Linked DNA regions of Homo sapiens. The protein of the gene in region 1 interacts with the protein of each later gene in a biochemical or structural test. Each region holds a gene or a part of one and is shown on either strand. Other genes may lie near its edges. The genes, in order: FBXW8 and CUL1.

Region 1 (3,824 bases):
ACCGTGTTCTGGAGGCCGGCTTTGAACTCTTTGGCATATGGTCAGGGCAGCGCTGTCCTTTCACACTGTGGATTTTCATAATTAGTGTGGCTCACCTTCTATGTGTCCTCTCGTGATTTACTCGCAGAGGCGAAAGCCTGTTGCGAACGGCACCGCGGAGAAATGGGCCGCCTGTGGATGGACAGAATCAAATTATTCTTGAAAAGTGCGTCTCAGACTCGTGCACATTAGAGAAAGTGCCGGCGGTGACGCAGTCAGGACTGGGGAGCGGGGTGGGTAGAAACATGCGTGTTTGTAGAGCCTTCCTTACCCTCTGGTGGCCAAATGGACCCTGATGACGTTGAAACCAGGAGACAGCAGATCACTTGGATATTTTTAACCTTTTGGCCACACATTTTGACACAAATGTTAAAATTTTTTTTGCGAATTTGGAGCTGAATGTTATTTATTCAGTTCATTGTAAACAAACAAACAAACAAAAAACACAACAAAACCAAAAAAACCCCAACCTTTTATTTTTTGAATTGCTATTACATCCCCATGGTTCAGAATTTAAAAGACACAATAAAGCTGATGGTGGGAAATCTCCCCATCTCATAATCCACTTCCCTCCTTGAAGGCAGCCATTGTTAGAAGATGTATGGATGTGCGAGTCAAGCGCATTGTGTACTTTCTCCACCCCCACCTTGTACACATGTCAGCAGGTGGGGTTACCTAACTCATCTTGCATCCTTGCTTTACCCGCTAAGCTTATCTGGGAGAACCATGCCATTTGTTTCGTTTTATAAAGAACGTTTTCATGCTTCCCTCTAGGACTGCATGGTATTCCAGCGTATAGATACACTGAGTTATTTAATTAGTCCCTTAGTAATGGGTGTTTCTGTTTTTCTAGTTTTTAGCTAAGACACAATTGTACTACAGTTCATGAATAACCTTGTACATAATCATTTTTTATATATGTGAGTTTATTTGTAAGTAACTTCTAGAAGTGGATATCCTGGGTCAGAGTGCATGTTCATTTGGTATTTTGATAAGAGTAGCCAAAGTTCCCTTGATACAAGTTGGACAAGATTATATCCCCACCAGCAGTAAGTGGGATCCAGAAACATGGAACATGGTTTTCCCTCCTTCACTTCCAGCCCAGGGTGTTATCAGATTTCTTGATCTTTACCGATATGAAAGGTGAAGCATCATATTTCAATGAATTTTCATTTTATATTTCTCTTTTTAGGTGTGTCTTATGTTTCTCTTATACTGAGCATCTTTTCTGTTGTGTAAGAGCTGTTTGTGTTTCATTTCCTGTGAGTGTTTCATTTGCCCATCTTTTTCTGTTGGGTTGCTGGTCTTCTCATTGATGTGTAGGTGGAATTGCATATTTTTGATCAAGTCAGGATGAATTTATGGGACTAAACAACTCTTACCTTTTAACAGGTTCAGTACCTTGAAATAGTTCCAGAAACCAGAAGGTACCCTGTGGCAGTAGCCGCTGCTGGAGATCTGATGTACCTGCTCAAAGCCGAAGACTCCGCCAGAACCCTCCTTTACGCCCACGGCCCGCCTGTCACATGTCTAGACGTCTCGGCCAACCAAGTTGCTTTTGGTGTACAGGGTCTGGGATGGGTGTACGAAGGAAGCAAGGTACACAACTAGCAAGATATATAATTAACAAAAAAGAATATAGATTTATTTTTTAGAAGGGAATTGAAAAATTAAAGCTCTTCAATATTTTTCCAGATATATCAGGCCAGTATATAAGCATGGTCAAAAAATTCAAGAACTTCAAAAGGATTGCAAATGAAAAGTAATCATTTTCTTTCTCCTCCCTTCCCCCAACTTCCCTGCACAGAAGAAACTATTAACAGTTTTTAGGTATCCATCTAGAAAAATTTAATGCATATATAGGTACATTTGTATACTAAAAACATATTGTTGTAGAGATGGGATCATAGTATACATAGTGTTCTGTACCCAACATTTTTACTCCATAATGTGCCTTGGAGAGAGGATTCCATGTCAGCTTTTACCAAGCTCTCCCTCTCTAGGATTCCAGCATATGCTTCTAGCTCATAGCCTGTTTAGCCAGGCCCCTCACTGGTAGGTGTTTAGCTTGCTTTCACTGTGTTGGCTGCTATAAGCAATGCTACAATGCATATTGCAGCTTGCAGAAGTCCTTTTATATATAGTGTATCTCTAGGATGTGTACTTGAGATAATGATGGACATTTTCAAATTGCCCTTCTAAAAAGGTGCATCAGAATTCACATTCTTACCAACAGTGCATAAAAGTGCATTCTGATGCTCTTTGAGCCAAAAGCAGGAAGACAGGTTTTTAATGGAAATTCTTTGAGTGATGACTAAATTTTATCACTCCCTAGCATGTTACTATCCTGACTATAGGCCAAATACTTAGTCTAAAAGCTGATTTATAGAACTCTCCCTACCAGTGGGACCAAGGGGGAGAGAGAGAAAGTTTTTGTTTCATTTTGGGTTTTTTCCCAATTTCCCTGCTCCTGACCCATTCTGTCAGTTGGTGGGATTCCTGCGAAGGAACGTGTCTGGGCCAGCAGACCCTGTGTGACTGTTAGTAGTTTCCTTAACCCTCTTTATGCCTCAGTTTCCTCATTTGTAAAATAGAGTTCATAATAGTGCCTGCTTCTTAGAGTTGTAGGATTAAATGAAAAGCCATATGTAAAGCTTGAGGCATGGTGCCTGGCACATGAGAGCTCCCGACCTGTTAGCTCCTGAACCTCCCGTTATTCCTCCCACCCATAGTTGGATTCCAGCCTCTGGTGGTGCCTATTTTTACATCTTACTTCCTCCATGTATTTGACCTGTAAGGTCAAATCTCATTTATGTAGGTGTGATTGGCTTTGCAAACTAGTAAATGGTCAAGAATGGAAGCATCTTGGATCCCAGTGATATATTCTTCATCCAGGAAGATAGACTAAGCGGTAGACGATATGTGTGGCATCCTATCATCTCAATGTGAAACTTTATCATCTCACTGTGAAAAGGCCTCCCCTTGTGCTGCAAACTTTATCATCTCATTTGTGCTGCAAATTTGGTGTGCAGTTTGGTTGGGGCATCTCCGTTGTGTCCTAGCTGGAAGATGTGTCATGATATTACTCCTGAGTTTTGTCTTCCCAGGAAGTGGGGAAGGAGCAGGAATTGTTTCCTAAGGCAGTTTCCTTTCTCATGCTCTAAAAAAACTTTCTTTTCCCATCCCTGGTGAGCTCATTTGTTGAGAGAGGGGAGACCATTTTGCTTTCTAATTTTTCATCTGGTATGCTTTCAAGTTTGTGTTATCTCATTTATTTTTAGAGCTCTCAGTATAGAGAGGTGATAGTTATATTCAGTACCAGTCTGGTTTAAATTTTTCATACTTTTTATAAATGTTTTCTCCTTGACTTATCTGAATGGATTTATTCCTGTAGTAATACAGTTGTAATGGATACATTTGAGAAACTACTTAAAGGGACAGTTCAGCACAAGGATCCTTCAGATACAGATGTAAGGCAGTGGGGTTTTTTTGATTCCTCTCAAAATTTCCAACTCAACTAAAAGCATTAACTGTAAGAATCAGCTGATAAACACATTAATTTTGTGAAAAATCCTTGGTTAAAAATGTATAGTCCCTGGCTGGGCACAGTGGCTCACATCTGTAATCCCAGCACTCTGGGAGGCCAAGTCAGGAGGATGGCTTGAGGCTGGGAGTTTGAGACCAGCCTGGGTAACATAGTGAGACCCTGTCTCTACCACACACACACAAAAAAAGTATAGTCCTGTAAGCTGGTGTTTTCGCTGGTGTTTTAAAATTAGGAGTGG
Region 2 (3,824 bases), on another chromosome or scaffold:
CTCTTGGAGGTGAATGTAGCTGGTGACTTTGTTGAAACGAGTGATCACTTACCATTCTGAAAATCCTAAGGCCCTTAAGAATTATGCTAAGTCAAGCCAATGTGGTGACCCGTGCCTGTATTTTCAGCTTCACAGGAGGCTAAGGTGGGAGGATCACTTCAGACCAAGAGTTTGAGGCAGTAGCCTGCTATGATCATGTCTGTGAATAGCCACTGCTCTCCAGCCTGGGCAACATAGTGAGATCCTGTCTCTTTAAAAAAAAAAAAAAACAAAACAAAACTGTCTATGCCCTAGAAATGGATATTAAAACCATAATAAACCACAGTATGAATGCAAGGCCAAGGTTGTGGTCGATGAAAACTCATGCACTACAGGGTGCTGGATAGCCGCTTTGTAGCACTAAGTTGGCAACTCTTAATAAAGTTAAACCCACCACTTTGGGAGGCCAAACAGGAGGATTGCTTGAGCCCAAGAATTTTGGACCAGCCAGGGCAACATAGCAAGACCCCATCTCTACAAAAAATTGTTTAAAAGGGCCTGGCAAGGTGGCTCACATCTGTAATCCTAGCAACTTTGGGAGGTCGAGGCAGGTGGATTGCCTGAGGTCAGGAGTTCAAGACCAACCTGACCAATATGGTGAAACCCTGTCTCTACTAAAAATACAAAAATTAGCCAGGAATGGTGGCAGGCGCCCGTAATCACATCTACTCAGGAGAATCGCTTGATCCCGGGAGGCAGAGGTTGCAGTGAGCCGAGATTACATCACTGCACTACAGCCTGGGAGACAGAGTGAGACTCTGTCTCAAAAAAAAAAAAAAAAAAAACCTCTCTTGTCACTTTGTCACTTAGTATTTCTGTGCTCCAAGAAACTTGTACTCAAGGAGACCTGCTAGTTTTATTCTTTGCAGCTTTGTAAATACACAAAAAATAGGTATCTGCCAAAAGGACTATTAGCAAGGTCCACCACCAAGAGAGTTGATGAAGTATTGTAAATGTGCGTTACACAGTATATTACAGCTGCGGCTATGTCAGATACCATCAAAAACAAATGGCAGAGCAAATGTACATATTACAGTTTGTATAATTTAAAAATGTAGAACATGGCCAGACGCGGTGGCTCACGCCTGTAATCCCAGCAGTTTGGGAGGCCGAGGAGGCTGGATAGCCTGAAGTTGGGAGTTTGAGACCAGCCTGACCTACATGGAGAAACCTCATGTCTACTAAACATACAAAATTAGCCAGGCGTGGTGGCGCCTGCCTGTAACCACAGCTACTCGGGAGGCTGAGGCAGGAGAATCGCTTGAACCCAGGAGGTAGAGGTTGTGAGCTGAGATCACGCCATTGCACTCCAGTCTGGGCAACAAGAGTGAAACTCCATCTCAAAAAAAACAAAACAAAATGTAGAACATGTGAAATATATTTGATACACATTTATCCAGCAAAATATAAAAACATAGGAATGATATATACCAAATCATGGTGCTATTTGCTAGGGTAAGAGGAAGGAGTGGGATGAAAGAGGGAGAATATAGTGCTTCACTTATAACCTGTAATATTTTATTTTCTCAAAAGTTGAGGGAGGCTGTAGGTGGAATATGAGACAAGTGTGGGAATGCAGTAAGATCTATCAAAACTGGGTCATGAGTATACAGTAGTTGTTTATTGTAATCTGTGATTCTCTATACAATTGAAATAGTTAATAATTTTTCATTGTTTTAAAGTATAGTTCTTTGATTATTACCTAGATTGGTTATTTTATTAGGTTTGGGGGCATTAGTATATATTTATTTTACCTTTTAGATTTTCTGTGGTATATTTTGTTCATGTTTCCATAGAGATTCATTTTTTTAATTGCTTTAAATTACCTTAATTTATTAAAGATAGTTTAAGGTATTTCATCTTAATCTACAATTTTGAATTTATTTATTTATTTTTTGAGACAGAGTCTTGCTCTGTCGCCCAGGCTGGAGTGCAGTGGCATGATCTCAGCTCGCTGCAAGCTCCGCCTCCCGGGTTCATGCCATTCTCCTGCCTCAGCCTCCCGAGTAGCTGGGACTACAGGCGCCTGCCACCACGCCCGGCTAATTTTTTGTGTGTGTTTTTAGTAGAGATGGGGTTTCACCGTGTTAGCCAGGATGGTCTCAATCTCCTGACCTTGTGATCCACCTGTCTCGGCCTCCCAGAGTGCTGGGATTACAGGCGCGAGCCACCGCGCCCAGCCTGAATTCATTTTTTTGTGTGATCTTACTTAGAAAGGGCCGCTCCAGCCTGAGAACAGATAAGCGTTCACATATATATTCTTGGTTTTACTGTTTTAGCTTGTATATTTTAAATCTTAATCCATTTGTAATATATTTTGGAATATAACATGGAATATTTAGAAATATCTTGCCCTCATGCCATTTATTAGATAATCTATCTTTTACCCGTTGTCTTGAAGTATCTTTATATAGTAAATTCTTAATTATACCAGAATATTGTTTTGTTCTGTTTTGTTGATCTTTCTGAGTATAAGTATCTTTCCGTTCATTTTATTCAATTAATAATACATGCAGATAAGCTCATCATATTTAAAGGATACAACAGAACACGGTGGTTTTCTGCCCTGCCTGGCCCCATCTTCTCATTCTCTGCGCTCCCCCTGCAGATGCAGCTGTTTTGCAATCAGCTGTCTGTGCTGTGGTTTATACATCTCTCTCTTTCTCAGGAGTGTGTGGACACTGCTGCCGTTCACTGATAAGTTTTAGATGGCTATGACTATTGTAATATAAGGACTTGGCTCTCTGAGTCATTTTAAAATAAAGTTTGTGTTATTTCAATATTTAGAATCTGTGCCTCTGAAAAAGTTACAGCTGAGCATCATAATAGACAGTGCTTATTGTTAGCTTTTTGTTTTTCCTGGAGTCAGTAATTGCATTTTTCTTTTGGGACAGTTTTCCACAAGGTCAGTCACATCAGATAATCTAAAAGGTCCAGATTTTTTTATAGGCAACCTCCCTCCTGGAATGTTCCCTTCTCCACCTTGGCGGTGTTGCTCTCAAGGCCTACCAACAACCTTGTGAATGGGGCTTGTTGACTTTTAGCTTTATGGATAGTGTGAATGGGATCTTTGTTCCATTCTAGTTTTTAACAGGTTTTGGTTGATATATTGGGAATGCATTGGTAATGAAATATAAGAAAATATGTTTATGTTAATGACCGTTAACGTCTGTGATATATGTTGGTTTCCTTAACTTTTCTCCAAGTCATGTTTATAACTACTGTACTAGTGTTCACCAGTCAAACCAAGCACGAGGAGCTGGAGTTCCTCCTTCTAAGTCGAAAAAGGGGCAGACACCTGGAGGAGCTCAGTTTGTTGGCCTGGAATTATATAAACGACTTAAGGAATTTTTGAAGAATTACTTGACAAATCTTCTTAAGGTAAGATGTTTTATATATATACTGAGTATTCATAACAGGATATAAAAAAAGTGAAATAATGGTTCTAACTTGTTAAATCTTTCACTGTCATCTGTTACTGTTTTAGACACTAACGTAGGTGACAGTGTTTTGCTATTGCATAGTCTTTTACCTACTGTGAATATGAAATCACCATAAACTATATTCTAGGGTTTTGTTTTTTCGAGATGGAGATCTCACTATGTTGCCCAGGCTGGATTTTTGATCTCCTGGGCTCAAGTGATCCTTCCACTTCGGCCTCCTGAGTAGCTGAGACTCTGCAAATGCTCACCACCGTGCCCAGCTCTTTCTGTTTTTTAAAATTAGAAAGCTTTGATAACCTTTTAGCATAATAGTGCTTTCGTTAAATTACCAACCATTTTGGA

The links.
Region 2: the proteins of FBXW8 (region 1) and CUL1 form a complex in vitro, tested with the Homo sapiens proteins (one study listed by BioGRID).

Annotation. Positions count from the first base shown.
Region 1 is NC_000012.12:116,987,232-116,991,055, forward strand, and holds part of FBXW8 (F-box/WD repeat-containing protein 8), read left to right. Parts: exon of another isoform or gene 1-106; intron 107-1,431; coding exon 1,432-1,638; intron 1,639-3,824. UniProt on the Homo sapiens protein: Substrate-recognition component of the Cul7-RING(FBXW8) ubiquitin ligase complex, which mediates the ubiquitination and subsequent proteasomal degradation of target proteins.
Region 2 is NC_000007.14:148,750,731-148,754,554, forward strand, and holds part of CUL1 (cullin-1), read left to right. Parts: intron 1-3,245; coding exon 3,246-3,420; intron 3,421-3,824. UniProt on the Homo sapiens protein: Core component of multiple cullin-RING-based SCF (SKP1-CUL1-F-box protein) E3 ubiquitin-protein ligase complexes, which mediate the ubiquitination of proteins involved in cell cycle progression, signal transduction and transcription.